7 separate regions of the Homo sapiens genome follow, and all the other regions are linked to region 6. The links come from fine-mapping of genetic effects on gene expression. A gene starts in region 6. Each other region holds a variant in brackets. All regions are shown on one strand. Distances are from middle to middle. Region 1 overlaps ADARB2 (adenosine deaminase RNA specific B2 (inactive)). Region 2 overlaps ADARB2 (adenosine deaminase RNA specific B2 (inactive)). Region 3 overlaps ADARB2 (adenosine deaminase RNA specific B2 (inactive)). Region 4 overlaps ADARB2 (adenosine deaminase RNA specific B2 (inactive)). Region 5 overlaps ADARB2 (adenosine deaminase RNA specific B2 (inactive)). Region 6 holds the start of ADARB2 (adenosine deaminase RNA specific B2 (inactive)). Region 7 overlaps ADARB2 (adenosine deaminase RNA specific B2 (inactive)).

What was found. PIP is the estimated chance that this variant, and not a neighbour inherited with it, causes the effect.
Region 1: its variant is fine-mapped to the expression of ADARB2 in whole blood (INTERVAL, PIP 0.94).
Region 2: its variant is fine-mapped to the expression of ADARB2 in cerebellar hemisphere (GTEx, PIP above 0.99). The same link has a PIP of 0.9 or more in atrial appendage, cerebral cortex and nucleus accumbens.
Region 3: its variant is fine-mapped to the expression of ADARB2 in whole blood (INTERVAL, PIP above 0.99).
Region 4: its variant is fine-mapped to the expression of ADARB2 in subcutaneous fat (GTEx, PIP 0.96).
Region 5: its variant is fine-mapped to the expression of ADARB2 in lung (TOPMed, PIP above 0.99).
Region 7: its variant is fine-mapped to the expression of ADARB2 in putamen (GTEx, PIP above 0.99). The same link has a PIP of 0.9 or more in caudate, hippocampus and hypothalamus.

Annotation. Positions count from the first base shown.
Region 1 is chr10:1,264,972-1,269,459 of GRCh38, reverse strand. All of the region lies in intron 4 of ADARB2 (adenosine deaminase RNA specific B2 (inactive)), which reads left to right. Among named protein-coding and RNA genes, the nearest start is that of LINC00200, 110 kb to the right of the region's middle. The variant TA/A (reference allele first, on the strand shown) is at 2,323.
Region 2 is chr10:1,197,893-1,202,380 of GRCh38, reverse strand. ADARB2 (adenosine deaminase RNA specific B2 (inactive)) reads left to right here. Exons shown (of 10, transcript NM_018702.4): 8 at 2,234-2,415. Among named protein-coding and RNA genes, the nearest start is that of LINC00200, 40 kb to the right of the region's middle. The variant C/G (reference allele first, on the strand shown) is at 2,007.
Region 3 is chr10:1,275,841-1,280,328 of GRCh38, reverse strand. All of the region lies in intron 3 of ADARB2 (adenosine deaminase RNA specific B2 (inactive)), which reads left to right. Among named protein-coding and RNA genes, the nearest start is that of LINC00200, 120 kb to the right of the region's middle. The variant AAAAAG/G (reference allele first, on the strand shown) is at 2,035.
Region 4 is chr10:1,585,014-1,589,501 of GRCh38, reverse strand. The region is part of intron 1 of ADARB2 (adenosine deaminase RNA specific B2 (inactive)); the gene reads left to right. Among named protein-coding and RNA genes, the nearest start is that of ADARB2-AS1, 61 kb to the right of the region's middle. The variant T/C (reference allele first, on the strand shown) is at 2,665.
Region 5 is chr10:1,619,849-1,624,336 of GRCh38, reverse strand. The region is part of intron 1 of ADARB2 (adenosine deaminase RNA specific B2 (inactive)); the gene reads left to right. Among named protein-coding and RNA genes, the nearest start is that of ADARB2-AS1, 95 kb to the right of the region's middle. The variant G/T (reference allele first, on the strand shown) is at 2,624.
Region 6 is chr10:1,735,046-1,739,533 of GRCh38, reverse strand. It overlaps ADARB2 (adenosine deaminase RNA specific B2 (inactive)), which reads left to right and starts at 2,009. Exons shown (of 10, transcript NM_018702.4): 1 at 2,009-2,483. The coding sequence starts at 2,384. RefSeq lists a silencer at 2,060-2,119 and an enhancer at 2,081-2,677.
Region 7 is chr10:1,240,421-1,244,653 of GRCh38, reverse strand. It overlaps ADARB2 (adenosine deaminase RNA specific B2 (inactive)), which reads left to right. Exons shown (of 10, transcript NM_018702.4): 5 at 2,355-2,523. Among named protein-coding and RNA genes, the nearest start is that of LINC00200, 83 kb to the right of the region's middle. RefSeq lists enhancers at 2,022-2,532, 2,533-3,044. The variant AGCTCCTGTCCT/T (reference allele first, on the strand shown) is at 1,868.

The sequences.
Region 1 (4,488 bases), 470 kb after region 6:
CCATGTAAGTGTTAGTTAATTATTGGTAATGGCACTATTTACAAATTATTTAGTCAGTGCCTGGCATACAAAGTTCTGGGGAATCAGCAGAACAAGAGACCAAATGCCTACCCTTGTGGCTCTTATATTCTAGTGGGGAATGGTTCATACAGAACAATTTAAATCCAATATAAAAGAACTATAAAAGAATTACATACACACAGGGTTGCTGGTCCATATAAACAAAACTTTGGTAAATTTTAAAATGTGGAGTGTTACACAGATTTCTGCTACAGATTTCTGAATAACTCAGGTTAAATTAGTGTCTTGGTATGAAAAGGAAAGGAGGAAGGGTAGGGGGAGGGAGTAGAAAGGGGAGGGGAGGGGCACCAGCCACCCTGGCTTCCTTATTGTGCAATGCACTTCCAGCCCCAGAGGCATAAGTCAGTATGACCTGGAAAGTAAGTTTGTAGCATTTCTCAGCGCTGGAACTCAATATCTTTCCATCTTTCTGGGAAACAAATCTGGCAAGTTTTGGAAGCTACTGTCAAACTTCATGTGGAAAATAGTAATGTTTTAGAGGCTTGTGGGGAAATGATACTTCTAAGTTGCCAGTGAATACAATGCTTTATGTGTAGGCAATTTATCTATATGAATTAAATTTACTACATGAAAATGAGACTTCATAAGGTAGAGCTTCACTAATTAGTGACTTCTGAATGCTGAAGAATAACTTGCTTAAATTTACTTTCCTATTGTAAAGAGACAAACACTGATTTTAAAAAATTAGAAATGTGCAAAATTACTAATACAAACATTTTTAGATACTCATTTACTTAAAGTTGATGTGCCATTTGATCTTAATTCTAGTTCAGTTATTCAAGCAAATACCTAAGAAATTCTCAGAGTAATATGTCTTGTTCTAGTTGCTGTATATGTCACAATGTTTTAAAATTAAACTTATTTTGAAATAAAACACAATTTGATTTGCCCCTCCTGTGGATGGGATGCCAACTCATTCACATTTATTAGCTCCTGAAAGTTCTGTTTATGAATCAGAGACCATTTCTTAGCCATTATGAGAAATATAATCACAGAAATATATACTTATGAACAGAAGTTTTTATTTTTATCAAATTAATGCAGTCATATGGTAAAGATTCTAAAGAACTTCTGAATGAAAAGCCGTATTCTCCCACTCCACCCCTCACTCCCCTTCACTCTCAGAAGCCACCTCTAACCATTTCAAATTTTTTTCTTGTGATTCTAAGTACTACATACTTCTATATTTCTAGATTTTCAGTTCTAGATAACATCTATTGACTCATGCTATTAACATTTGATACTTTTTTCATTTTCCATTATTATGTTTGTAATGTGCAATTATAGATAAACCTTTATTTCTTATTGCATCAAATTTGGGTGTGGTTTCACTCCCTGTTCTGTGCGTTGAGGGTGGCAGCCCTCAGCCCCTTCCCCACTAGCCAGCCTCTCTCAATTATACGTGTTACATCTTTACACCATCATCACTGGTATTTATATCCTTTCTTATGCCCATAATTAAGTCTTCTCTACTTTGTCTTTTGAGTGATTGTAACAGCTGAACAGCATCTATCTGATGAGAGTGTTGCAGATATTCCCACTACAGAGCCAAGCAGAACCACCTTCAACCCTCCCAGCACAGTTCCGCTGGGAAGGGAGCCTGGCTGCCTGGCGTCAGGACACGCAGAGGCTCCGCCTCCACCCCCAGCTCCAAGTTGTGTTGTGTTTAAGTTTGATTCACTTGTGTTGCTAGACTTGCTTATATCGCTTTTGAAATATTGTGCGTGTTTTTTTCTGGAATGTCTTCTTTTTTCTCTTATTGAAAAAAAAGAAAGAGGAAGATTGTGCCTTTACCATACGTGCTAAGTCACGAGGCTTCTATGGAAGCATCTCACAGAGGGTACCTGCCTCTCTCCCAGAGAACTCCCAGGCCAGGCCCATCGAGGCACGTGCTCTGCAGACCCGGCGTCCTGCTCTTCCAGTGGGACACCATCTCCGGAATCATTGTCTTCCTCCTTGCTTTGTCTCCCCTCATAGAGAGCTTCCTCAAGAAGCATCATCTAAAACGATGGGAGATCAACTTTGTGAATATTCCCACATCTCAAAATTCCTTGATTTGCTTGTCATCCGTCTCAATAGATTCCCAGGGGGGAATTCTAAGCTTTCAATTATTTTCCCTCAGTATTTTGAAGTAATGTTTCCATTATCTTTTATCCAATATTTCTGACCTGCCTCACATTTTCTCTGCAGTGACCAGCACCCACACCTACCCGGGAGGGGGAAAGGTTTTTTTTTTTTTTT[TA/A]ACTTGGATTTAAGAATATGTTTAGGTGTGAGCCATTCACTTCTCTTGACATATTTAAGCTATTTGTATAGTTTTATGTCATTTGTTTTATGAATTCCTTCATTTACACGCATTTTTGTTAAATTTGCAACACTCTATTAATTTTCTGCTTTTACTTTTAAAATTTGTCTCTTCATTCTTTTACTCGATGTTTTTGGAGATTTCTTAAATTTATCCTACAGCTCATAAACTGCCTTTCCCTCCTAATTTTTGCAACCTATTTTCATTATTTAAATCTTTCCCTTATCCTCCATTCTTCCTTTTTCAAGGGAGCCTCTTGTTCTGTAGCTGTAACTTCTGCTCAACTCCTCTGAGGAGACGCCCTGGCCCGTGTCCTCCAGGCCAGGGGCAGTGGCTTTCTGTTTCGCGTGGTCTTTCTCCCGTGTCCTGCTGATGGCTCTCGTCTGAATACACACACTTGTGAACGAGACGTTAGACTGGTATTGTAGGCGTTGGCCTGGTGTCTTCTGCGGTGGTGGCCGGCTGGTCCTTCTCCCACAGGCTCCCGCCCAGATGGGAAGGCGGCCCAGGGCCCATTTCCATCAGCTCAGGTCTCCTTAGGATTTGTGGGCACGGCCCCCCCCCCACCCCCCACCACAGCGCCAATGAGGTGGGGTCCCAGCCGGCCCTGGACCCTTCTCAGGCGGTCCTTTCCTCCCTGTAGGGTGGGACTCCATCTTTCATGCTGAACAAATGCTTCCACCCTCAGGCATTCTCCCCAGAGAGCAGGATGCTTGGCCAACTACCACAGCCATTTACTTAAAATAATCCAGTGAGCCCTATGCCAGGAGCACATGCGCTGTTGCACCGGACCTACAGGCACGAGGCTGGGCCCTCCCAGGCCTGACCTCGAAGACAGCTGCTCTCTCTTCCACTGGGAAGCTTTGTTCTCATTCTCACCACTCCTTCTCGGCGCCGACCCACACGCCATCTTCTCAGAGGGCGTGGACCGTGTCTTCCGGGAGAGCGTGGACCTGGCTCAGGCCGTCTTCCGGGAGAGCCTGGGCCCCCTCTCAGGCCGTCTTCCGGGGGAGCGTGGACCTGGCTCAGGCCGTCTTCCGGGGGACCCTGGGCCCCCCTCTCAGGCCGTCTTCCGGGGGAGCGTGGACCTGACTCAGGCCGTCTTCCGGGAGAGTCTGGGCCCCCCTCTCAGGCCGTCTTCCGGGGGAGCGTGGACCTGGCTCAGGCCGTCTTCCGGGGGACCCTGGGCCCCCCTCTCAGGCCGTCTTCCGGGGGAGCGTGGACCTGGCTCAGGCCGTCTTCCGGGGGACCCTGGGCCCCCCTCTCAGGCCGTCTTCCGGGGGAGCGTGGACCTGGCTCAGGCCGTCTTCCGGGAGAGCCTGGGCCCCCCTCTCAGGCCGTCTTCCGGGGGAGCGTGGACCTGGCTCAGGCCGTCTTCCGGGAGAGCCTGGGCCCCCCTCTCAGGCCGTCTTCCGGGAGAGCGTGGACCTGGCTCAGGCCGTCTTCCGGGAGAGCCTGGGCCCCCCTCTCAGGCCGTCTTCCGGGAGAGCGTGGACCTGACTCAGGCCGTCTTCCGGGAGAGCCTGGGCCCCCGCTCAGGGCGTCTTCTGGGAGGGCATGGGTCCCACTCACCCCTTCTCTCCATCACACAGTAGTTCAGCGTTGTTCCCTCCCGAATCCTCTCGTTTCACTGGAAAAAGAGAAGCAAATGTTCTCCCCCATCCTCTTGAACCCCTACAATACTTACTAGCCAAACTGTCAGGGCACCGCTTTATTTAGAAACTCTTGTGTTTCATGAGCGAATGATTCTTAAAGGGGCTGTTGATGGTGATGCCTTGCATTTAATATGCAGATTTATAATTTTGACAGCATTTTTACATACACTAATCAGTTTGATTGACATAACCCCGATAAGTGGGGAAGGCAGGAATTCTTATTAACACTTCAGGAAATGCAGACACGAAGATGAAGAGGCCAAGTGGCTTTCCTGATGCCCTGAGGGCGGGGCAGAGCTGAAATGTAGAGCTGATGGTCCTTTATCCTTCCCAGTTCCAGGTTCCTTTTGGAAGCAGGCATCAAGGCCCGGTGGTGACCATGCATTACCTCTTTATGGGAAATTATTTTTCGAGTTTATTAATAACTAGAAAAAAGGAGTTTTCTAGAGT
Region 2 (4,488 bases), 540 kb after region 6:
ATAGGAAGACTCTGCCTCTATGAAAAAATACAAAATAATTAGGCTGCGGTGAGCTATGGCTGCACCACTTGCACCACCATACTCCAGCCTGGGTGACAGAGTGAGACCCTGTCTAAAAAAAACACACACACACACAAAGACCAGGTGCAGTGGCTCACACTTGTAATCCCAGCACTTAAGGAGGCTGAGGTGGGAGGATCGCTTGAGCCCAGGAGTTCAAGACCAACCTGGGCAATATGGCAAAACCATGTCTCTATTGAAAAAAAAACAAAACAAACAAACAGAAAACACTTCCCATTGTTCCCTGAAGGAAAAGCTCAGTTACAAAAAATCTCCTTTCCCAGGATTTGTTGCCATTCTCTGACTTATCGGTGAACATCAAGGAAAAGATTGACTCTGAAGAGCCACCATCCAAGATCCAGGGAGACACACTGTGGAATCTGTGGAATGAAGGTCCTCGGTGACAGGCGCTGTGTGTCCTCCCACCATCCGAGATCCAGGCAGACACGCTGTGGAATGAAGGGTCCTCAGTGACAGGCGCTGTGTGTCCTCCCACCATCCGAGATCCAGGCAGACACGCTGTGGAATGAAGGTCCTCAGTGACAGGCGCTGTGTGTCCTCCCACCATCCGAGATCCAGGCAGACACGCTGTGGAATGAAGGTCCTCGGTGACAGGCGCTGTGTGTCCTCCGACCATCCGACATCCAGGCAGACATGCTGTGGAATGAAGGTCCTCAGTGACAGGTGCTCTGTGGCTTACGACCATCCGAGATCCAGGCAGACACTCTGTGGAATGAAGGTCCTCGGTGACAGGCGCTCTGTGGCCTCCATCTCATCCTACCCTTCAGAGCGCCCGACCTCACCCCTCTGGTAGAAGCTCGCACATCCAGTGGCCAGCCCTTCCCTTGCTTTCTGGGAGAAGCACCGTGACTTGTAGAAATGACCACAATATTTTTTTAAATGAAGTTATGCAAATCTGATAGACTGAAGTAAATGTTTCATAAAATCAATGACTGTTTAAATTGTAGGACTAAATTGTTTGTATATAAATATTACCTTTTATATTCCATTTGAGTTTTATGTAGATGAGCACATTACTTTAATGACCTGCATTTGCAGAGGGAGAGAGGGAGAGCGGCTCCCCGAAACCCCCACCAGCCAGATGGCTGCCTTTTCTTGCATGAGATTAAAAGATGTTTCTCATTCATGGAGATGCTTCTGAGGCAAATTAATATCGCTGGCTAAATTGCTTGTGTTTTTGGAATAAAATTTAAAGAGAACTTTTTAAAGCAATTGGTATCACGGGTTCTCGGAGAAGATTACTCTCCAGGTAGATTCGGTAATTAATGGAAAGAATCCTGTGTTAATTGACTGCTTCGGGAAGGGAAATGTAATGACTCCTTATTAATCATGAAAAGAGACGCTGCATGCGGGGATGGCAGTAATTGCTCTAACAGTGGAGAAATGTTAATTAATGAAAAGAACAATGATGTAAGAAATTAGCTACGTAACGCTTGCTGCTGAAGGAGGTAGGATTTTAAGCACATTATTTAGAGTGGAAACCATAGAATGTTGCTTCAAAAAACACACACATGGAACCTCTTGCCACCCAAATTTAAGGGGAAAAAATGTCAGTGCTCTTGGCATTTTTGCTTGAGGAAGCAAAAACATTCACCCAGAGCTATATTTATTTCAAACAAAATGGCCTTGTTGTTCATCTCCAATCTGGGCTTCTGAAACCAAAATCATGCCCAGACCAAAACAAGGTCATTTGTTAATGTAATTTCAACACAATAGGTCATTTTGACTGCTAAGGACAAAGGGAGTACTAAGTATTTTTCCCTAAACTAAAATAAACAAATTCCATTTATAGTATTTCCCAGCTAATATAAAGAAAAATTCAGATTCACTTTTGGGACAGAGTATCTTTTTAAAAAAATCTAATTCTAAGTCCCACAGAGAACATAACAGTTTCCACTCTAACGACTCATTTTCAGAAAAGAGAG[C/G]AGCATTTGTTAGCACACATGGGCCTGTGGAGCCCAGTCCCAGGCAACAGTGTCCCCAGAGCCCCAGTGATGGCTGGGTTGGGTCTGGGGCACTCCCAGGGAGCTCCCCAAGGTCCGCACGATGGGAAGACTGACAGGTCCTCAGGACCAGGCCGCAGACGGACAGAGAGGACCAGGCTCCCTGGGCTCCTGGGTGGGGCTCCGCTGACTGCTGGCTCTCCCCACAGGTGGAACGTCCTGGGGCTGCAGGGCGCGCTCCTGTCCCACTTCGTGGAGCCCGTGTACCTGCAGAGCATCGTGGTGGGCAGCCTGCACCACACGGGCCACCTCGCACGCGTCATGAGCCACCGCATGGAGGGTGTCGGCCAGCTGCCCGCCTCCTACCGGCACAACCGGCCTCTCCTCAGCGGTAAGAACCCCCTTCCCGGGGGCCCTCCACCTCCTTCCCACCACCAGGCCAGACACAGGTGTGCCCGGCGGTGCCATCCCTCGCAGACTTCATCCATGTTGGCTAGTGGCAATTTAGGATTTAATGGGCAAAGTCCTACGATTTTAAAAAGAAAAAATGAAAGGTTTCAGCATCTCTCTGCATATAGCAATAGGCCAGGTCCTGATGTGAATTCGTGATTGTGTGATGGTGCTGTTTTCACAGCGGTGTCTGAAGGAGTTCTGAAAACAGAATCACTAGTGTTGGGCTCACCCAAGAGGCCCCACCTGCCCACCTGGCCGCCCACCTGCCCACCTGCCCACCTGGCCGCCCACAGGAGGCGATGCTGAGGAAGAGCCAGGTGGGCGAGGAGGGGCGGGGGGCGCCAAGGTCACGTGGCCAGAGCGGGTCTTCGGAACCCAGGGCCCCGGGCCCTCCACACCCTCCAGAGGCTGCCAGGTTACTCCGCGAGTACTGGGCCGGCTTCGCACCAGGATTCCCCACAGCCCAGATGTCCTCAGAGACCCGAGCCTCCCCAAGCCTCTACTTCCCCACGTTACCTGGGGCCTGCCCGGGCTGCCTGGCACACAGCCAGCTGCAAGGATGAAGAGTCCCTTGGCAGCTGCGAGGTGCCCTAGAAAGCCCCGGGAGTGGTCTTGGGAGGGTTTTGTGAAGGACACACTGACAGGAGGCGACTCCTGGCCTTTCACAGGAACAGCGGGAAGCGGGGGGGTGGGTTTCCGAATCACCGCCAGCCTCATGCTGGGCCTGCAGAACACCAGGTCTTTGAGTCAGCCTCCCTTGCTGGAGTGGGAGAGCTCTCTGAAGGGCCTGCCTGTGGCAGAATCAGGCAGATATGTGGGGGAAACGGAGAAAACCTCTGCCCCAGAAAGGAGAGGATTTTCACCTGTTTGCCAAGTGGCTCCTGCACTCTTTTTCTGCGCGTTTTCCTTAGGCCATCCCCGCTCTTTGTCCAGCACCTACTGAAGGGCTTATTTAAGCTTGCGCAGCACAAGGAAATATGGAGTACAAATGCAACCACGCCCTCCCCAAGCCACCGTCAACGGAGCAGGTTTTGCCCTCCCTGGGCACTGGCATGTCACCCTCAGCAGCCAGTCTCCCAGTGCTGATTTTCAATCATGTGTCCATCTGGGAACATGTCAACATAAATAAAAACAGGAATGTCCAATCCTAAGTGTGAACACAGTGAATTTTAGAAAACGCAATTAGAGAAATTCAGATCCACCTGACATCATTGAGTGGCACAGATAATAGCCAAGCCCGAGAGACACCTGTCTGCTTCCGATCCCAGGTGGCACCTGCCACACCACGGCCGGTGCAGCCTGACTAAATATTTCAGCCTCCATTTACATGCTTATTGGGAATCTGGTTTTCATTATTTTGCAGATGCAAATGAGCCTAAATCTTGGTACCTTGCCTGCATGCAACCCCTAAGCTGTCCCTGCATTGTTCCTGATGGACATTTAAAAACCAATCATGCAAATTTTGAAAAGAAATCATCAGAATTTCTTGCACCAAAAGAAAGAGAGAGAGAGATCTTGCACAGGGATAATAATAAAAAGCACCCTCAAATAAGCAAATGAAGTTTGCTTGAAGCTTCCCTCAAGGTCAGTTTGCAGAACTGCCTTAGAAGATGAAGATTATGTATTAGCAGAATGAGGCCCAGCAATTTAGATATGGCTAAATCAGCTCTGAGTTAAAAAGAAGCAACCAAGCTGAAAAAGATACCCTTACTCACACAGTCACGGGATGCATAGTAATGTTCTTGAAGGATATACTTGAAAAATTCTGCACTTTCCAGTCTAAATCTATGGCAAAACTTCAGGACCAGAAGCCCATTTCGAGGATGTCTCAAACGCTGAATCCTTCAGCAAAAGTTGCATTATTTCCTGAGTACAGATAGCCTAAAGGAGTTTGCCCTTGGTCCTTCTCAGTGAATTCAGTAAGATGAACAAAATGATGGGGATAGTAATTAATAAAACTCTATGCTTTGAATAATCATCCTTTTAGGAAAAAGTGAGATGAAATAGCCAC
Region 3 (4,488 bases), 460 kb after region 6:
ACATGACATGGGTTCAGAAAGGGAGCCGCTCAGGTGACATCATGTTTTGTTTGATGGAACTAATGTTTGTGTCCCCCGAAATTCATATGTTGAAGCCCTAATTCCCAGTGTGGCTGTATTTGGAGATGGGGCCTCTAAGGAAGTAGTTCAGGTTAAGTGAGGCCATGAGAGTGGGGTCCTGATCTGATGGGATTAGTGTTCTTGTAAGAGGTGACACCGGAGAGTGAGCTCACTCACTCTGAGCCAACAAGGTGATGCTGCCACAGACATTCAGTTGAGAACATCCTGTCCCTGACCTCCCCCAAATTCACATCCTTCTTGCATGGCAAATGCACTCATCCCATCCCAACAGCCCCAGAAGTCTTAGCTCATTCCAGCATCAGCACTAAGGTGTGAAGTCCTGAGCCTCAACAAAACTTCACCTGAATCAGGAATGGGTGGGACTCGGGGTGCAATTTGCCCACCCTGAAGCTGAGCTCTCCCCTCCAGCCGTGAACCACGGAACCCAAACAAGTTCCATGTTCCCAAAATATAACAGTGAGCCAAGCATGGAGTAGACGTCCCTTTCCAAGAGAGAGAAAGAGGCAACAAGGAAAGGATGGCAGGGCCCAAGCAAGTCCAAAACCCTAAGGAAGTACTTACGGCAAAATGAGGTCATGGAGTTGAGGCAGCTTATCCAGTGGATTAGTGTCCTTATTAAAGATGACCCCACAGGCCAGGAACGGTGACTCACACCTGTAATCCCAGCACTTTGGGAGGCCAAGGCAGGAGGACTGCTTGAGCCCAGGAGTTTGAGACCAGCCTGAGCAACACATTGAGACCCTGCCTCTACAAAATACTGAAAAATTAGCCAGGTATGGCACCCTGTGTCTGCGGTCCCAACTACTTGGCAGGCTGAGCTAAGAGGATGACTTGGGCCCTGGAAGTTGAGGCTGCAGTGAGCTATGATCACGCCACTGCGCTCCAGCCTGAGCAACAGAGGGAGACTATGTCTCAAAATCAAACAGACAAACAAACAAACAAATGATGCCATGGAGTCTGGTCCTGCTCTGTCTTCATGCATACACAAAGGAGAGTTCATGTAGCACATGACAAGATGGCAGCACCCACGCGCCAAGAGAAAAGGCCTCAGAAAGAAACTGACCTGGCCGACACCATCATCTTGGGCTTCAGCTTTCAGAACCATTAAGAACGTTAATTTCCGTTGCTTAAGCTGCCTAGTCTATGGTATTCTTTTACGGCAGCCCCAGCAGATGAAGACAGTGTGAAAAGGTTGGGGAAAAAAATGCTGATAATAACTGGTGGGAAAAATAACCAACTTTTTTCTGAAATTTTACTTTTTAGATAATTCATCCTTGAGAGTTTCACTTATCCATACACGCAGTCATTCATTCGAGAGGTTGATGACAGCCATGATCACTCATGGTGCTATGGCAGGACCACGAAAATGCAAAACGCATCCAAGCCATGCTCCCAGCCACAGATGCAGCACTGCATAGGAGTCACACCATAAAACATGAACTGCTAGGTAATCATGCAGGAAAAAACATGAGTCGACCCCTACATGAATGTTGCTGGAGTTCTAAAGGCAGTGGATTGCAGATGAGGGAGAGGACCTCCAAACAGGGGAATAGGAAACCTTTCGGGCCTAGGAAGGAGTTTTAGAGACTGAGGCAGGGCAGGACATAATGGATTGAGAAACAGGCTATGCCATAAAAAAAAAAAAAGAATGAAATCATGTTCTTTGCAGCTACATGGATGCAGCTGGAGGCCGTCATCCTAAACGAATTAACAGAAAAAGCCAAATACCACATGTTCTCACTTATGAGTGGAAGATAAACATAAGAGTACTCACAGACATCAAGATGGGAAGAGCAGACACTGGGGAATACTGGTGGGGAGGGAGGGGGTTGAGAAACTAACTACCAAGTACTGTGCTCACTACCTGGGTCACTTGTACACCAAACTTCAGCATCACTCAAACCTGCACATGTACCCACTGAACCCAAAATATAAGTTGAAACTTAAAAAAAA[AAAAAG/G]AAAAAAAGGACCGGGTGTGGTGGCTCACACCTGTAATCCCAGCACTTTTGGGAGGCCAAGGCGGGAGGATCACCTGAGGTCAGGAGTGCTAGACCAACCTGACCAACATGGCAAAACTCCATCTCTACTAAAAAGTACAAAATAAACTAAAATTAGCCAGGCATAGTGGCGCGCGCCTGTAGTCCCAGCTACTTGGGAGGCTGAGGCACTAGAATTGCTTGAACCTGGGAGGCGGAGGTTGCAGTGAGCCGAGATCATGCCACTGAGGTCCAGCCTGGGTGACAGAACTAGACTCTGTCTCAAAAAGGAAAAAAAGAAAGAGAGAGAGAAAGAGGGGAAGGAAGGAAGGAAGGAAGCAGAAAGAAAGAAGCCCACTTGATCACGGTGGATAAGCTTCTTGATGTGCTGGTGGATTCGGTTTGCCAGTATTTTATTGAGGATTTCTGCATCAATGTTCATCAGGGATATTGGTCTAAAATTCTCTTTTTTTGTTGTGTCTCTGCCAGGCTTTGGTATCAGGATGATGCTGGCCTCATAAAATGAGTTAGGGAGGAGTCCCTCTTTTTCTATTGATTGGAATAGTTTCAGAAGGAATGGTACCAGCTCCTCCTTCTACCTCTGGTAGAATTCGGCTGTGAATCCATCTGGTTCTGGACTTTTTTTGGTTGGTAAGCTATTAATTATTGCCTCAATTTCAGAGCCTGTTTTTGGTCTATTCAGAGATTCCACTTCTTCCTGGTTTAGTCTTGGGAGGGTGTATGTGTCGAGGAATTTATCCATTTCTTCTAGATTTTCTAGTTTATTTGCGTAGAGGTGTTTATAGTATTCTCTAATGGTAGTTTGTATTTCTGTGGGACTGGTGGTGATATCCCCTTTATCATTTTTTATTGCATCTATTTGATTCTTCTCTTTCTTCTTTATTAGTCTTGCTAGCGGTCTATCAATTTTGTTGATCCTTTCAAAAAACCAGCTCCAGGATTCATTAATTTTTTGAAGGGTTTTTTGTGTCTCTATTTCCTTCAGTTCTGCTCTGATCTTAGTTATTTCTTGCCTTCTGCTAGCTTTTGAATGTGTTTGCTCTTGTGTCTCTAGTTCTTTTCATTGTGATGTTAGGGTGTCAATTTCAGATCTTTCCTGCTTTCTCTTGTGGGCATTTAGTGCTATAAATTTCCCTCTACACACTGCTTTGAATGTGTCCCAGAGATTCTGGTATGTTGTGTCTTTGTTCTCCTTGGTTTCAAAGAACATCTTTATTTCTGCCTTCATTTCATTATGTACCCAGTAGTCATTCAGGAGCAGGTTGTTCAGTTTCCATGTAGTTGAGCAGTTTTGAGTGAGTTTCTTAATCCTGAGTTCCAGTTTGATTGCACTGTGGTCTGAAAGACAGTTTGTTATAACTTCTGTTCTTTTACATTTGCTGAGGAGTGCTTTACTTCCAACTAAGTGGTCAATTTTGGAATAAGTGCGGTGTGGTGCTGAGAAGAATGTATATTCTCTTGATTTGGGGTGGAGAGTTCTGTAGATGTCTATTAGGTCTGCTTGGTGCAGAGCTGAGTTCAATTCCTGGATATCCTTGTTAACTTTATGTCTCGTTGATCTGTCTAATGTTGACAGTGGGGTGTTAAAGTCTCCCGTTATTATTGTTTGGGAGTCTAAGTCTTTTCGTAGGTCTCTAAGGACTTGCTTTATGAATCTGGGTGCTCCTGTATTGGGTGAATATGGGCAAGGACTTCATGTCTAAAGCAACGAAAGCCAAAATTGACAAATGGGATCTAATTAAACTAAAGAGCTTCTGCACAGCAAAAGAAACTACCATCAGAGTGAACAGGCAAACTACAAAATGGAAGAAAATTTTTGCAATCTACTCATCTGACAAAGGACTAATATCCAGAATCTACAATGAACTCAAACAAATCTACAAGAAAAAAAACAAACAGCCCCATCAAAAAGTGGGCGAAGGATATGAACAGACACTTCTCAAAAGAAGACATTTATGCAGCCAAAAGACACATGAAAAAATGCTCATCATCACTGGCTATCAGAGAAATGCAAATCAAAGCCACAATGAGACACCATCTCACACCAGTTAGAATGGTGATCATTAAAAAGTCAGGAAACAACAGGTGCTGGAGAGGATGTGGAGAAATAGGAACACTTTTACACTGTTGGTGGGACTGTAAACTAGTTCAACCATTGTGGAAGTCAGTGTGGCGATTCCTCAGGGATCTAGAACTAGAAATACCATTTGACCTAGCCATCCCATTACCAGGTATATACCCAAAGGATTATAAATCATGCTGCTATAAAGACACATGCACACGTATGTTTATTGCGGCACTATTCACAATAGCGAAGACTTGGAACCAAGCCAAATGTCCAACAATGATAGACTGGATTAAGAAAATGTGGCACATATACACCATGGAATACTATGCAGCCATAAAAAAT
Region 4 (4,488 bases), 150 kb after region 6:
GGATGTCCTGACCATGGATGCCCCACTGTGGACACCCCAACCATGGACACCCCGACCATGGACACCCCGACCATGGATGCCCTGACCGCAGACGCCCCTCCGTGGATGCCTTGACCATGGATGCCCCAACAGTGGACACCCTACCATGGATGCCCTGATCGTGGATGCCCCGACCATGGATGCCCTGACCGTGGCAGGGTCCGCACCTTTCCACCATACGTTCTCCCCTGGAGGCTGGCGGTCAGGCTGAAGGTGGGTAGGTTCCCATATGAAAGTATCAGTCCTAAAAATGCCCACCATCTGTTCGCCACAAATGTGGCAGAATTCAGAACCAGGGTCTTTCCGATGTGAAAGGAAGGAATTCGGTGCACATAAATAATAACCAGTGGACTGATGGAGCCATGCCAGTAACTTGTGCATGAGAACACAGGAATATTCAGAGGAAGAGGGGTACACAAGAAGACAAAGAGCCTTAGGTCGCTTCAGGTTACGTCTCCCAGCCACAGGGTTTTAGATTTGGGAGCTTTTTAAAATGTGGATGAGGGTGCTGTGCTGTGGTTCTGGGCTGGATAGGCCTGATCAGAACAAAGCCAGCCAGGCCTCAAGCCGACTCCTCCAAGCATCGGAGGCCATGCTGCCTCTGTCAGGAGCTCTGTCTTGATCTGTATCGATCTTGTCATCTGCGAAGCTCTCCACATCTTTTTCTCATGAATTTGTGTCAAAGCAGATCCCACACCCCATTGCCTCCAGAATTGAGTGTGAACCCCAAGGCAGGGGCTGGCGTCCATCCAGGGTCGGGCTGTCTTCCTGCCTTTGTTCCCTGACTTCTGGCTGTCGAACCCACTTTCTCCTCCTTAGGCCAAAATTCCGAGCTCGGTATCAGGCATAGAAAGGTTTTCTCTGCCTTCATCCAGGCGATGTTCCAGCCGCAGAAGGGTGACTCTTGGTGCCATCTTTCTGCGTTTGATTGTTCACCAGCAAATCCTCCCAACAGCAGCACCGTCTGGCCTACCTAGCTCTGTCTACCAAGGGGGAATCTGTTTAAGACAATCTGCACATTAAATTCCCATCATTTGGCCTATCAAGTTCCTTATATTGGTTGCTCATGCTCCAAAAACCCAAGGAAGGGCTTTGTTGATCACCAAATCCAGGCTTGTTGGACCCGCTGCAGATAAAAAACCACCTTGACATAGCATCCGGGGTATCTCAAAATGGGAATAGAGGAAGATACGTTCAGGGTTTCAGGCCTGGGCTGGGCAGCTTTAAGGTGAGTGTTTCAGGGCAGCAACTGGAGGGATTGGGGAGAGGGTGTGACCTGTGAGCTTAGAACTGCTTGTCCTGCAAGGTGGGTCTTGAAGTGAGCCTTGAGCCAGGGTGGCCTCAGTGTGTAGCCTGTGATTGGGTCAAACAAAGATTTACTGGAGCCAAGTCATTTTCCCCTTGTCATAGTATTGTTGCATTAGTCCGCTTTCAGCTGTTGATAAAGACGCAACCGAGACTGGGTAATTTATAAAGAAAAAGACACTTAATGGACTCACAGTTCCATGAGACTAGGGAGGCCTCACAATCATGGCAGAGGATGAAAGGCACATCTTACATGGCGGCAGTCAAGAGAGAATGAGAGCCAAGAGAAAGGGGAAACCCCTTATAAAATCATTAGATCTCATAAGGCTCACTACCGTGAGAATAGTACAGGGGGAACCGCCCCCATGATTCAATTACCTCCCACCAGGTCGCTCCCACAACACGTGGGAATTATGGGAGCTACAATTCAAGATGAGATTTGGGTGGGAACACAACAAACCATATCAATTGTTTAGCACAGAAAAAAATAAAATGCTTGGTTTCAAATTGTTCAGCTGAGGCACAAGAAAGAGATCAGTATTATTTCTCACGGGAACCCACGCTATCTCCCCACACTTACCTATATTGCTTTGTAAGTGCTTATGAAAAAAAAAATCAAAACAACAAATAGACCAAATGCATAACCATATTCACACAGAACCACCTTCTTCTGTCTGAAACCGAACCTACACCATGATCATACACCCTGCTGAAGGAGTGATTTTCAAACATTTTTTCATTTTTCAAGGGAAGCAAGAAAGTCCTATATTTAAAACAAAGCTGAGTTCTTCTGTCTGGATGAGGACTGGAACCTCAGCCGTTCCCCTTTGCTGGAGGAACCCCTGAGGGTCTCTAAAGGGCCCCCGGACGCCCAGAACCCGACTTACATCTCTGGAGCCTTCATGTCAGAAATCATTGTTCTTTTTGTTTTGTTTTGTTGTTTTGTTTTTGAGGTCAAAATAATTCTTTAGGGACAAATTAATTTTACTCTCAAACTATGTGTACTCAGGAAAGGAGATAAGCACCTTTGGTAAAGGAAATGAGTATACAAGCGGTTATAATCATTTTAGCCATTAATGAAACAAAAATCTTTTGAATGCCAGAAGACAGAAAATTTGCAATTCCCCGGTGTAATTGAGTGCACGTTTATAGACTTCATTTTAGTTTTGGAAATAAATTCTTGCACAATGGAGATACCCTGGTTAATTTAAGTTATAATTAAAAACAACCCTAACTTATATATTGATTTCATTACATTGTATTTCATTTCTGTTTATTGTTTCATATTTTAACGAGTTAATAAAGGAGGCGTTTTATATA[T/C]TTCTTTATGCTACTCACAAACCCACACTACGTCCTGAATAGAAATCACACTTGTGCAACACATTTTTTTCTTCCCAGCTACAGTAATGAGAATGTTTTTCCACTGACATTAAATAATCGCAGAGAATCCAGGAATCTATTCTCTGTGTAGGAAGGAGTCGGTTTTCCTTGTTTTCTGGGCAAAGCAACTTGAGATTTACTTGAAAGAAAAAGGTGTTGAGAAAGATCTAACCATCACCTGATTGAGTAAGGTGAGCAGATCCCCTCGGGGCAGAGATGCAGGTAATCACTTAGGAAAGTGAGATCCTGACCTTGGCACCATGTTGAAATGCCAGCCTGCATTGATCTTCCCACAAGAAAGGCTTCACTCTATTCCGGAAGTGAAGTCAAATGCATCTGAAAATGTGGGCTGAGCCATTCCCGACCATCCCGCCAGCTGCTCTCAGGTGCCTCATCTTCTGGATTTGGTGGCTTTCAGATCAAGCACTCGGGGTCCTTCAGCCAATACCCTTTGCTGCCTCATAATTCTTGTAGTTGCTGCAGGAGTAGAAAGCCAAAGACTGGGGTCAGAAGAACTGGGTTGGACTTTTTGTGGCTGTTTGTTGTTAATAGACTTTAATAATTTGGGGGTTGTGAACAGAAAATACCTGAGACAGGTCTCAATCAATTTAGAAAATTTATTTTGCCAAGGTTAAGGATGCACCCATGACACAGCCTCAGTAGGTCCTGATGACGTGTGCCCAAGGTGGTCAGGTCACAGTTTGGTTTTGGGGTGTTTTTTGTTTTTTGTTCGTTTGTTTGTTTGAGATGGAGTCTCGCTCTGTCACCCAGGCTGGAGTGCAGTGGCGCTATCTTGGCTCACTGCAAGCTCCGCCTCCCAGGTTCACACCATTCTCCTGCCTCAGCCTCCCAAGTAGCTGGGACTACAGCCGCCCGCCACCCCACCCAGCCAGTTTTTTGTATTTTTAGTAGAGACGGGGTTTCACCGTGTTAGCCAGGATGGTCTCGATCTCCTGACCTCGTGATCTGCCCACCTTGGCCTCCCAAAGTGCTGAGATTACAGGTGTGAGACACCGCACCCAGACACAGTTTGGTTTTATAGATTTCAGGGAGACCTGAGACATCAATCAATATCAGTCTGCGTAAAATGTACATCAGTTGGTCTAGAAAGGTAGGACAACTTGAGGTCAGCAGGGGCTTCCAGGTCATAGGTAGCTTTTCACCGAATACACAATTCCCATGTGAGAGGAGGGTAGAGCAGGAATCATCACGTAAGCCTTGGTCTGGCTCAGTGACTCTGCATTGTTACATAAGCAATAGGGCAGAGGAAGCAATTAGATATATGTTTGTCTCAGGTGCACAGGGGGATGACTTTGAATTCTGTCTGTCCTTTGTCCACAGGGAATTTCCTTGTGGGCAAATCACGAGGGAAGCATGTAGCTTTTTTTTATCTTTGTAGCGATCTTATTTAGGAACCAAATGGAAAACAGGTTTGTCCGATGCAGTTCCCAACTCGACTTTTCCCTTTGGCTTAGCGATTTGGGGATCCTGAGATTTATTTTCCTTTCATGGGGTTCACAGCATAATTGAGTGGTGAGTACAGAGTTACCCCATGCCCCTGTCCCCAGTATAGTCGCAGCCTCCCCCACTGTCCGCACTGCCCATCAAAGGGGGTTTTTGTTGTAGTCGATGAACCTACATTGACAATCACCACCACCCACCCAGAGTTCACAGTTTACATTAGGGTTCACCATAGCAGAATGTATTGTACATTCTGTGGGTGTAGACAAATGTACAATGGCATGTATCCACCATTACAGTATA
Region 5 (4,488 bases), 120 kb after region 6:
ATCGTCTTTAGTGGTTTAAAATGGAGGCAGTCTGGATTCTTATTCTCTTTCTTTTTTTCTTTGGTTTTTGTTTGTTTTTGTTTTGTTTTGTTTTGTTTTTTCCGAGACAGGATTTCACTCTGTCACCCAGGCAGGAGTGGAGTGATGCCTTCAAAGCCCACTGGGGTCTCAGCCTCCTGGGCTCAGGTGATACCCCCACCTCAGCCTCCCAAATAGCTGGGACCACAGGTGCGTGCCACCATGCCAGGCTAATTTTTCATGTTTTTAGTAGAGATGGGGTTTTGCCATGTTGCCCAGGCTGGTCTCAAACTCTTGGGCTTAAGTGATCGATCCGCCTCAGCCTCCCAAATCGCTAGATCATACGTGTGAGTCACTGCACCAGCCTTGATTCTTACCCTGAATCTCTTTCACCAGCTGAGCTACCTTGGCCAAATCATTTCATCTTGCTGTGCCTCAGTGGCCCCATGAACAAATGATGATAATAATAGTGCCTACTGAAGGGGCTGTTTGAGGATTAAATGCTGTGGGTCTCTAATAAGCTCTATGAACATTAACTATTTGACTGCAAACTCAGCCCTCGTACTGGGCATTCCTGAGGGTGAAGGCCCCTGGTCCTGTAGGCGGGAGGGAGGTCTCCAATGTCTTCAATAAGGCAGGGAATCCATGCGTGTGCAATCGCACTGATGACAGAGAAGGTGATGACGGTACAACGGGACAGACAAGGAGTTCAAAGCAGTTACGGCTCACGGTGGACCATGCCTGGGAAGGCGGCCAGAGGCGGGTGTAGGCGCTGACAATGGAATTCTATGGGTAGTGACAAAAATTCTATGGGCTGTGTGAAATCTAGTTTTCTAACAAAAATTTTCCCAAAACAACAGTTTATATTCTTACTCAAGTGTAATCAAGTAAGTGCCATTCTAGCTATACAGTAGAAACTACTGTAGTTTGCAGTTCATGTATTTGTTGCAGCATTACTGACATGCTTCCATTCAATAGACTTTGCCCGTGCACAATTCAATCATTTTCACACATCTACAGTGTTGAGCTGCATGACCACCTGGGATGCGCCTCACGTCCTCTTGAGAATGTGGGCTTCATGGATGTGTGTGCAGAAGGAAGCTTATTTTTTCATTTATTTAATGATGTTTTTGCAACAATCCAATCCCACCCCCAGCCCTGGGCAACCACTAATGGATGCCCCATCTCTAAATATTTTCCTCTTTTGGAGATTTTGTATAAATAGAATCATGCCATACGTCACGTCTTCCTTCCAACTCCTGCTCAGCACAATGTTTTTGAGGCTCATCTGTGTTGGGGCGCGTGTCCGTAGTTTGCACCTTTGGCCTACGGAATGCTATTCTAAGGTTTGGATAGAGTTCCTGTTGTTTCTCCCCCTCTCTGTTGATGGACGTTTGTGGTGTCATCAGCTCTTGCTTGTTATGAATGAAGCCACGTGAGCATTCCCTGACATGCCTTTGCGTGGACGTGTTTTCATTCCTCCGAGGTGGGTGCCTAGGTGCTGAAGTACTCTGTTATATGGCGGGTATATGTTTAGCTATTTAAGAAACAAACAAACAATTTTCCAAAGTAGCTGTTGCATTCTAAATGCTGAGCAGCCACGCATGAGGAATCGCCTCTTTTCATAGTTCATCCAACACTTGGTATTTTCTGTCTTTTTAATTAGAGCTATTCTAGAGGGTATATAGCTGTATCTCATTGTGGTTTCATTTACATTTCCCTAATTACTAATGACGGTATACATCTTTTTAAGTTTTTGTTTTCTACATGTCCTCTTTAGTGGCATGACTGTTCAAAATTTTACTCCTTTTTACTGGATTCTTGTCATTACTGAGTTGTAGGATTCTTTATATATATATTCTAGATAAAAGTTCTTTATCAGATATATAACTTGCAAATATTTTCAACCTGTATAAGATTTATTTTTTCATTAAAGATGTGTTTTGAAGCTCAAAGTTTTAAAAGTTGATGAAGTCCAACTTTTTGATATTTCCTTAATGAATTGTGCCTTTTATGTTGTGTCTAAGAATTATTTGCCAAATTCAAGCTAATAAAGATTTTTTCCTGTTTTCTTCTAGGAGTTTTAAAATTTTAGCTAGGGTCTTTAGGTCTGTGGTTCATTGTGCGTTTTGTGTATAGTGTAAGGTAATGGTGTATATTCATTTCTTTGAATGTGAGTATACAGTAGAACCAGAACCATTTCTTGAAAAGAGTATCCTTTCCCCATTGAAATTTCTTAGTACCTTTGGAGGAATTAGTTGCCCATGGATGTAAGCATTAATTCATGAACCCTCAACTCTGTTCAATTTATCTAGATTACCTTACCTTGGTAGTAAATTTTGAAATCAGCTAGTATAAGTTTTCCAACCTTTTTCTTTCTTTATTTTTTTGCAAAATTGTTTTTTACTATTAGATCCTTTGCATTTTATTTTCATACATATTTTAAGAGGAGCTTGACATTCTCTACAAAAAAAATCCTGGGATTTGAGATTTGGCAGAGATTGCATTGAATCCATGGATAATTTGGGATGAATTGTTATCTTGACATCTTGACATTACTGAGTCTTTAAATCCAGAAACATGGAATTTCTCCCTATTTACTTAG[G/T]TCTCCTTTGATTTCTTTCAGTAATGTTTTGTAGTTTTCAGTACACAAGTCTTGCATTTCACTGTTGTTGTTGTTGCTGTTAAGTGTGTTCCTAACACAGTGAAAACTCATCTCTACAAGTAATACAAAAACTAGCTGGATGTGGTGGCATGTGCCTGCTGTCCCAGCAATTCCAGAGGCTGAGGCAGGAGAACCACTCGAGCCTGGGAGGCCGAGGCTGCAGTGAGCTGTGATCATGCCACTGCTCTCCAGCCCAAGTGGCAGAGTGAGACCCTGTCTCAAAAAAAAAAAAAGAAAGAAAGAAAAAGAAAAAGAAGAAACTATTCCTAGTTATTTATTTTTGAGGCTCTTGTAAATGTAACAATGTTCTTGTTTTTCTTTTCAGATTGTTAGTAATATATAAAAAGACGATTGATATGTTTATACTAATCATATGTCCTGCAATCTTGCTAAAATACCTACTAGTTCTAATATATTTTTTGTTGATTCTATCAGATTTTCTACATAGATGTTCATGTCATCTACAAATGAATACATTTTAATATTTCCTATGCTGGATGCCTTGAATGATTGGCATGTTTGTTTATTTTGTTTGTTTTGTTCTCATACTTGCAAGGACCAGCAGTATACTGTTGAATTCAAGTGTGAAAGTAGACATCCTTCCCTTGTCCCTGATCTACAGGAAAGCACTCAGCCACTCATGACTAAGGATGGAGCTGGGCATGAGTGATTCATATATGCCCTTTTATAGCTTGCAGAAGTTCCATTGTACTCAGAGTTGTTAAGGGAGTTTGTCATGAATGAGTACTGGATTTTTCCAATACTTTTTTCTGCATGTATTGTGATAATCAGGTGTCTGATCTTTATTTGATTAATATAGTATATTACACTAGGTGATTTTTACATTTTAGGCCAACTTTTCACTGTAGGCGTAAATCTAACTTGGTCTTTACATACACCCTTTTCATATGGTGCTTGATTCAGTTAGGTGATGTTGTGTTAATAGTTTCACATCCATATTCATAAGAAATCTTGGGCTATACTTTTTGTGATATTTTTGTGCTTGCTATCAATATAATATTAGAACAACTGAATGAATGGAGAGTCGTCTCCCCTTCTGCATTTTCTAGAACAGTTTGTAAAAGATTGTTAGTATTTTTTCTTTATTTAACAAATTCACCAGTGACACCATTTGGGCCTGGGCCTTTTCTTGTGTAAAGGGATCTCTAATTGTTAGTTTAATTTTCTTAATTGTTATTTTTGTAGTTTTTTTATTTCCTCTTTAGTCATTTTTGGAAATCTGCGCATTTCCAGTAATTTCCCCCATCTCATCTAAGTTGCCTCATTTGGGCCATAAAGTTGCCCATAACATGTGCTTATGACCCCTTTAATTTTTGTAGATTGGTGATAATGTTTCTTCTTTCATTTCTAATTTTCATAATTTGTGTCTTCTGTCTTTTATTACTGGTCGGTCAATCTAAATATGTCAATTTGTTGATTTTTTTGGTTTTCTATTTCATGGATTTTTGCTCTAATCTTTATTATGTCTTACTTTGATTTTAGTTTGCTCTTATTTTTCTACTATATTCACATGGAAGCTTAGAATATTGATTTGAGATCTTCCTTTCTTTCTGATATAGGTGTTTAAAGCTATAAATTTCCCTCTACTGTCTTAGTTGCACCCCATAAATTTTAATATAATTTTGTTTTAGTGCAGTTAAATTTTTTTCTTATTTTTCTTGTTTTTCCTTTATTGATCCATGGGTTATTTAGAAGTATATTGTTTAATTTCTAAATATTTGCAGATTTTCCAGATTTCTTTCTGTTGTTCAATTCTGATTTACTTTCATTGTGGTCAAAAACAT
Region 6 (4,488 bases):
TCAAAGACAGTTTTCAGTTTTGTTTCCCCACTCCACCAACATCAGAAGAACATTTAACAGACACGTTACTTTCCGGCCACCATACCTGCCCTTGGAGTGAAACAAGGGTTCATGTATACGAGTCTCCCAGACAGCACGGTTGCTCCGTGTGATGATGGAGCTATTGGGGCCATTAATAAATGCTGACCACCTTGTGGGGGCTGTGTGTGTGTGTGAAGCTCTTCTGAAGCACCTTCCTTCGGTGACTCCACCCCCTGATGGGTTTTCTGCAGATACAGAAATAGGGCAACTCTGGATTAGTGCAGCACATTGTGTGAAGCTCAGAAGTTTCACAGGCAGAGTCCTAGAGCTGTGTTTCTCGATATAGTTTAAGCACTCAAATATCTCGGGTATTGCAGAGAGGAAGTGAGAGAGCTATGTGCCTTCTCAACCCTCGCTGGGAATTATCAGCAGAGCTGAGCTGTGCTGTCATGGGAACAGGGTTGTTGAAGCCAGCCCTGAAGAGGGATGTTGGTTTGATTGTGGTCCTCAGTCTGAGTTGGACTAGAAGGTTCAACATTCTAAAAGGAAAACGCAGAAGCCCTGTCTTTCTGAGGCTTGTCTGCAACATACGCTCATTCCTTCCAAATTATTTGCTGGAAAAAATTTAATAAATAATCATAGAGTAATTAACATGTTCCAGTTCCTGTCTATACTGGTTGATACTGATTCAACGAGTATGAATGAACTTATGAGGTGGGTGACGTTGTTATCCCCAGTTTACAGATGAGGAAACTGAGGCACGGTTTAACTTACCCGAGGTCATAGCAGTAGAGTTAAGATTTGAAATCAAATGTCTTACTCTCTCTCATCAATGAAAACTGAGCTACGATCTATCAGCTCAGCACATAACAACACAGGATCATCCTAATTATTTCCAATGTCCCCCAGAGTGATTCTTTTTTCTTATGATAAAAATTATCTGGAAATTTCTAGGCACATAAGCAGCTGAAAAGGTTGCATGTGAGGCAATGAATAGCAGAAATATTTGTGTGCCATTTTTATATCAACATGTTAATGTGTGCTAATGAATTTTAGAGTGGATTTTTTTAAAAACATGACTATTGTAATTAAAAGCTTATGTGATTTAAATACAAGATGCAATGATGATTACCAGATTCTATTCCTCTTTATATTTTACATAAGACTTCCAGGGTTCCATAAGTATAATCTTGAAACATAGGACATTCCTGGAAAAAAAAATTGCTTAAAACTATTTCAGTGTGCAATCCACCTCTTTGTAAATGTTACTTTCTTCCATCCAAATATTACATTTGGCAACAAAACTCTCCGCTGAGAGCTTTCTCTTCCTTTTGTGTCATTGTTCCCTAAATAAAGCAACACATGAAATTCCTGACGGCAAAAATCAGACTCAGATCCCAAAACCTCTGTCTTTATGCAAGATTTATCTTTTGCATTGGAAACGGCCAAGGAATATGAAGAGGGGAAAGAAGAGGCAAACAGACAAGCATGCAGGCTCTGAGGAATAAATGCCCCTCAGGACGCTGTCTCCTGGGGAATTGCAAACCTCAGTCCGTTTCTGAGGAAGTGCGGTCTCTGCATTTCTGAAAGAGGTATTTCCCCCCCTTGACACAAGGAGCATGGTAATGAATTGACTAGTTAAAAACTGTTGGTTGGAAAAACCCGTCCCTGTGTCTTTCTGAGCAGGGCGAGCTGAGCTGTCCGCGAGGCTGCGGCAGGAGGCCTCGTCCTCCCGGGCAGGGTCCCTCCTGGAGGCTCCCCCGGTCTCTCCCAGACGCACCCGCGCCGCGTCCTTGTTCCCCGGGAGCAGCCTCCCTCCAGCCGCCGGTCCTGGGAGCTTCACCGTCCAAACGGGAGCTGAGTTTGCAAGCGGCCAGGCGGCGGTGCGGCTGGTGCTGCTGCTGATGTCAGAGCCAGAAAGCAGTTGTGATTGGATCTAATTAGACGCTGCTGCAGCAAATAGACAAGCTCCCTGCGTGATTGGCTTCAAAGTGGCTGGTGCCAAACAACTAGCAGAGGCGCAAAAGTAGCCTCCCTGCGCTGGGAGCCCAGAGCAGGAGGCAGAGCCCGCGGGAAGCTCGGAGCACTCAGGACGCCGCGCGCCCTTCCCCGCCCTCCCTGACCAGGGAGCAGCTCGCTCCAGGCGCCCAGCCGAGGCCCCCAGCCCAGTGGGAGCAAGTCATAGAGAACAATTCGAGAGACAGAGAGACGGAGCGCGCTTTCCTGCTCAGTCCTGAAAAGTGAGCCGCTCCCGGGTTTGCAACCTCAAGCTTCGCAGCAGCGGCGGCGGCGGCTGCCGGGAAGGAGGCAGGTGCAGGTGCAGGAGGGAGGCGGCTCTGGGCTCCGCGCCTGGGTCTCGGCCATGGCCTCGGTCCTGGGGAGCGGCAGAGGGTCTGGAGGGCTGAGCAGTCAACTCAAATGCAAGTCCAAGAGGAGGAGGAGGCGGAGGTCCAAGCGGAAAGGTAAGGACCGCGTGGCGCGCCGGCCCCTGCCCCCCTTCACCCCCGGCTTCTCCACCCCGGCCTCTCATGGGGTCTCCGGGCTTGTCCGTTGTGAGCAGCTTCACTTTGGGGTGCTGGCGGGATGGCTGCTCCGTGCAGGGCGCTCGGGAGTTCAGATCCCGTGGAAATGTCTGGGGCCTCCTCTTGCCCAGAGGGGACAGTGAGCAGCCACGCTGCGACATGTTTGAGGGACCCGGACGAAGTGGGGCGAGGGCGGCGAGGAGCTCCCCGGGGACCCCGCGCGTCTCCGGGCCCCGCAGTCCCCAGTGGCCGGCCGGGCTGGCACTGCCTTCCACCCTCCGGAGGCCATCTCGTCTCCCAGTGCCAAAGGAATTACCCAAAAACGGGGGAACGAGCCCTCGCGCCAGCTACTCCCATCCAAACTGTCCCGGAGGAAGGGATAGGCGAAGCCCTGCGATCGCCTCTCCAAATTGGCTGGCAGTTTTTACTCAATGTGGTGCCCGTCGATTTGTAAACATTGGGTCGTAAAGAGAACACAGGGCTCGTCCTTGGAGAAATAAGCAGAAATGAATACAGGAAAACAGAAAGAAGCATCATATTTTGTTAGTGGTAGAAAAAAACCGCAAACCAGGAAAGCAGGAAAAGCAGCCGGCTGACAGCGGCCACTGACAAACTCAGCTGTGCCTTGTTACTGATATTCCTGGGGCTGGGCCGCGCTGAAGTTAGTCAATGCTACAGCAAGGGAGGGCTTTCACACTGGGGATTTTGCAAAATTAGCAATCGCTCCAATATGAGAGCAATGCCCCCAGTGCCATCGTAGCCTGTGTGCATGCCAGGAAGAATTAAAAGATTCTTCTCATGCCGACCCTTCTCTCCTAGAGGAACCTGTGTTATTGTCAGTTCCTAGTGAGCCTGCAGGAGAAAGTTCAGTTCTAATCATGATTTGAAATGTGCTGATTTTTTTTAAGTGAGGTAGAAGTATAAAGAACGGTTGGAAAAACACAGCTAGAATTGATCAGCTTTGCCAGTTGTTTGAAAGCAGGAGGCAACGTTAGGTGTGTTTGGGGTTGTCCATCTTTCCTGAAGAATTTTCATCTTTGCATTGGCCTAAGATAAGTTTCTACCAGACCGTTTCCTGTGTGCCCTCGAACCGTCACCAGGTCCTTTATTGCCTCTTCCAATAATAGAAATTATCCAGACAGTCAGCAGGCATAAATGTCAATAGCAAACAGTCATTCATTATGACCGAACGTCAGGACCACTGGGAGGGATTGGCCCCCACAACTTCCTCAAAAGGTTTTGGAGCCTTTGGTTTCAGAAGGGAGGTGATGTTGTGGTTCTCATTTACCTCTCAGCTGCTAAGTGTGCGCTTGCGATTCACTTTGTTGTTTGAAATTATCATTTTGAAACAGACCTGTTAGTGTCCTCCAAAGATAATGCCAACACAAAGTGGCATTGATATTGAGAAAGTCACCGGATTGAATAATGAATATGACTTTTAAAAGAGGAAAAAGGAAGCATCATCTTTACACTTGAAATGTTCACATTTCCCAATATTTTTTGATTAGTCTATTTAAATATTTAGAGTTGAAGAATGTGGAGTAATAGTTCGCAATAATGCATTTTATAAATATAAACAGGAGGAAAGTGTTGCCTTTCTCCAAATTCACTTGCCTTGCCAGGAAGCGTCAGTCATGCTAGCTTAGAAAGTATTCAATTTAGGGGGAAAAAGGAAATCTGGGGAAAGACTTCATTTGCTATAAACTTAACTTTAGCAATTCAAAATAAAACTCCTATAGCAAATATTTCCATACCTTGGTTATTTTGAATATGTCAAGTCCCTTAATTTTCATAGCCAAAAATTGAAGCGGGAAAGGGCATTCAGGTTTTGTACACTGATTTCTGTTACGAAGAGATTTCTGGCGTGCGGGAGAATTTCCCAGGGCACCTGCCGGCAGCTATCTTGATAGGAAAGTCAAATCAAACGGCTAAAGATTCAATTTTT
Region 7 (4,233 bases), 490 kb after region 6:
CCCTCGGTCCAGGCTTCGCGTCTCCTGTGTTGGGAACGTGGTGCTGGCGGTGGGGGTGAGAATCATGAAAACTGAATATGCAAACACTTCTTGGGCCACGTAATTGTGCTGAGTGTGGCAGAGTCTGGAGCCAAACGGAGCTGGGAATCAATGAGGGGTAAAGGGAAAGCAGTTGCTTTTTTCTACAGCTCCAATTTCCACGGAATCCAAAGAGAAGGAGCAGGCCGGGGCCTCACAGGCCACAGCACCTATTCCTGAAGAGCTGTCCGTTTCCACCAGAGACTGCATGCGCACCGGTCGTGAACACTGAAACTGGTTAGGAATCGTTATCAATGTGTTTCCCATTTCTCTAAATACCAGCTTTAACGAAGCTGGAACCTGAGGGGTGGTTTCTGCATCACGATGTCATCCTTGTGAACCATTTCTCAACAGTCCACATGTCACTGACGGCCTGAGTGAGATGGTGGCTCCCACCCCTGGCAGAGTCAGTAGCAGCTGCCCACCCCAGCTCCCTGTAGCCTTAGATCCTGGTCCCATCTGCTCGTCAACTTCTGGGACCCCCGCTAGGGGGCAGCCCCCGCACCCAGGATGGCTGAGAGAGGAGGAGGCCTGGACCTGGAACCCGGCAGCTGCTCACGAGCTTTCCTGGGGGAGGAACCTCAGGGCGGCTGGTCGTGTCCTGTTCTGATTAAAGCGGCGTGGGGAAGTCTGGTCACTTCCTGAGCTCAGGAGCAGTCCCGTCCCACCAGGGAGGGGGCAGTGGGTAGACAACAGGACCAGGACCATGGAGTTCTCTTCGGGCACAGAAACGGGGGCTGCTGGGAGAAGCTGGGATGAGCGGAGAGAGCAGTGGACATGGGCAGGAGGCGGGGGCTGTGCTAGACCGCTTTGCCTGGAAGGAAGGAGGCTGGACAGACAGACCCCAGCTGCAGAGCCATGGGGGCAAGGATGCTGCTGGGCCTCTGCAGGTTACTTCCCCAGTGCTCGGTCCCTCCCGGCCCCGAATTCTCCCTGGCTGTCACTGGTAGCTGCTGACACCACCCTTTTATCTCACGAAGAAAGATCCCACGGTGAGGCCCAGAGAGGGCAGATGCCCTCAGGGCTCAAGAACTAAGTTCTCAGGGGAGAAAAAGTCACATCAGAGGAACAAGTGTGTGAGAAGCGAGAAGCGCTCATGACCAGCCAGCACTGTTTTTATTTAAGATGGGAGGGAAGCCTGCTTCTGGCGTGACATTAATTAGTCGATTTTATTTAAGATGGGAGGGAGGCCTGCTTCTGGCGTGACATTAATTTGTGTGTCACCTCTTCCAAGAAATGGTCCGGACGTGTATTTACAGGTAACTCTGTGGACGTGGCCGCGGTCAGCGGCTAACGCGTCTCCGTGCTGCCCTCCCTTGGCCTGCGATCCGGGCCCAGCCAGTGGCTGTCACATCCCAAGGCTCCTGGGCACCCGCAACATTCCTGCCACCTCCAGCCGAAGGGCCTGGATGATGGATTTGTTATTGGATCGGCAACACTGACCCGTCTAATGACACGGACTCCCTAGGGAGCCCTTGCTTGGAGTATTTGGTGGAAATTCTGACTCGTGTCCTCAAGGAATTCACCATCTAAGTGCAGAGAAAATACACATCCACACAGACCTGTTAGAGCACAGCAAACATTGGCTTGTGTCTTCCAGCTTCTCCTCCTTAAACAAAGTGATGAATATTATACTTTAAGGACATTACGTTGGGGGTTGTTTTTGAGGTTTCTTTGTTGTTTGTTTTCAGTCCCTGAAGAGAGTATCATTTTTGTGGATGGGGTTCCTTTGACTATGGTTAAAATGACACATCCAGCCTCCTTTCTGTGTTAGTATGACAGGTTCATC[AGCTCCTGTCCT/T]GTGTTTCTGTGTTAGGGTGAAGGGTTCATCAGCTCCTGTCCTGCCCTGATCCCGTTGGAGGACAGGAGAAAGCACAAAGGTGGTTAGAGGTTGGGCAGGAAGCCCAGGCCGCAGCTAGCACTGCTCCCACTCACAGGGGACCTGGGACTCAGGTGGAGAAAACTGTCCTGGTAGTAAGTTTGACCTCAAAACTCTGCTCCTATGGTGCCTAAGGAGCATTTCAGCAACCTTAAGGATAGCAGAGGCACTCTGAGCGCTGTCTCAGGCCACCATGAAGTAGATGGGAATCCCTCAGGCGGGCGGTCACCCGTGACAGCCTGGAGCACACAGAAGCCTCGCTTCCCAGCTCTCAAAACGCAGTGTTTCCAAGGTTTCCTAACCCAGGGAAACCGCTGTTGTGAGACCCTGAAAAGACCGAGGAGGAGGGAGACGGGGGCCGTGGGCCACGCTGCTCTGATGCTATCTGTGTCCCCAGGCCTGGATGCTCGGCAGGCGCAGGTCGTGGCCCTGTCCTCGGGGACCAAGTGCATCAGCGGCGAGCACCTCAGTGACCAGGGGCTGGTGGTGAATGACTGCCACGCGGAGGTCGTGGCCCGGCGGGCGTTCCTGCACTTCCTCTACACGCAGCTGGAGCTGCACCTGAGGTGAGCGGCTGGGGACGGGCTCCAGGGAAGGCGGACGCCGCGGCTGGGGGCTGCCAGGGAGCAGATGGGGCCCCATGCCTGGCTCAGAACACGCTTCCCTCTATCCTGGCACAGGGTGAGCCAGAAAGCATCCCTTTTTATTCAGACTAGAGACATCCCTGGCACACCAATAAAGCCGCCGTGTGCGCTGGGAAGATGCTAAAATTCCAGGCTTCCTCCTTACTCCACGTTTCCCTCCAGAAAACACCTTTGCAGCCCTCGTCCTTCCGGGCAAGGCCACCCTCTCCTGGCCTCGGTTCCCCATGCCCCCCACATTCCTGCACTGCCCCCTTTTCCGCCGTTGCCCTCAGAGAACGTGAGTGCAGTGCCCAAGGGGTGGCTTGGAGACGCGCTGTCTTCTTGCCTCCTGTGCCAAGTACATGTGAAGAGGCCGCTGAGGCCTTGAGAACTGTGCCCCAGTATTGGGATTCCCAGGGTTCCCTGGCCTGCTCTGGCCATCAGGCATTGGTGGCTGTCATGGGGCAGCCTCCTGTCCCTGAGACACTTTAGAGAGGAGCAAAACCCAGGTGGTTTGCAGCACGTGGCCTCCGCGACACACCCCCAGGCTGGGCCATTCAGTCCCAAGGGCTCACTGTGGGCTCCTCTCCTGAAACGCTCCCTCCTGTGTCTGCTGTCTACTCTTTCACATCCCTTGAAGCCATCTGCGTTCCTCAAATCTACGAGTAATGGGACCTTGGGGGGCTTTGGCAAGGGTCATCTCCATGCCCATTAGCTGTGCAAAAGCCACACAAAAGGAGAAAGGCCCACGTGTAGCCCTAAGCAGACGCTGCTGAAAACAACACCTTAACACACTCAGCTCATTCTTTTTTTTTGAGATGGAGTCTTGCTCTGTCGCCCAGGCTGGAGTGCAATGGCATTATCTTGGCCCACTGCAACCTCTGCCTCCCGGGTTGAAGCAATTCTCCCACCTCAACCTCCTGAGTAGCTGGGTCTACAGGCGTTCACCACCACGCCTGGCTAATTTTTGTATTTTTAGTAGAGACGGGGTTTCATCACGTTGTCAAACTCCTAACCTCAAGTGGTCACCCTATCTCGGCCTCCCAAAGTGCTGAGATTACAGGCATGAGCCACTGTGCTCAGCCCACACTCAGCTCATTCTTATCTGAGCCTCTGAGCAGGGAGCCACAGGTTGAACCCATCCCTCAGTTCCCTGAGGCCTGCGGGGTGCAGCAGGAGTTGGATATGGGGGAACAGAAATATCTCAGAATGTAGGGAAGGATTTCTCCTAAATGTCCACCTGCTCAACTGGGACTATCACCAAGATCCCTCACTCTTGTTTGTGTCAGAGAAGGCAACTGGACCAATATTTACCAGGAGCTGGTTACATGCTTGGTGCTGTGCCACCAGCTGGGGGGGTCCACAGACAGGTGCACCCGACGCCTGCCCTGCATGGGGAACCAGCACAGGGGAGGGGGAGTCCAGGGCAGCCACGTGGCTGACAGGCCCTGTGCCGGGGCCCAGGCTTGGGATACATTTGCCAAGGGTCCTGGGGGAGGCAGCCGGGGCAGTGGGGGATGGTGGCTGTGGGCAGAGTGCAGGCACAGAGGCAGGAAGACTGCTGGATGCCGCAAGGACTTCCTGTGGAGAAAATGTCTGTTCTGTTGCCTGTGTGATCTCAGGGCCCCACAGAACACAATCCATCACCCATGG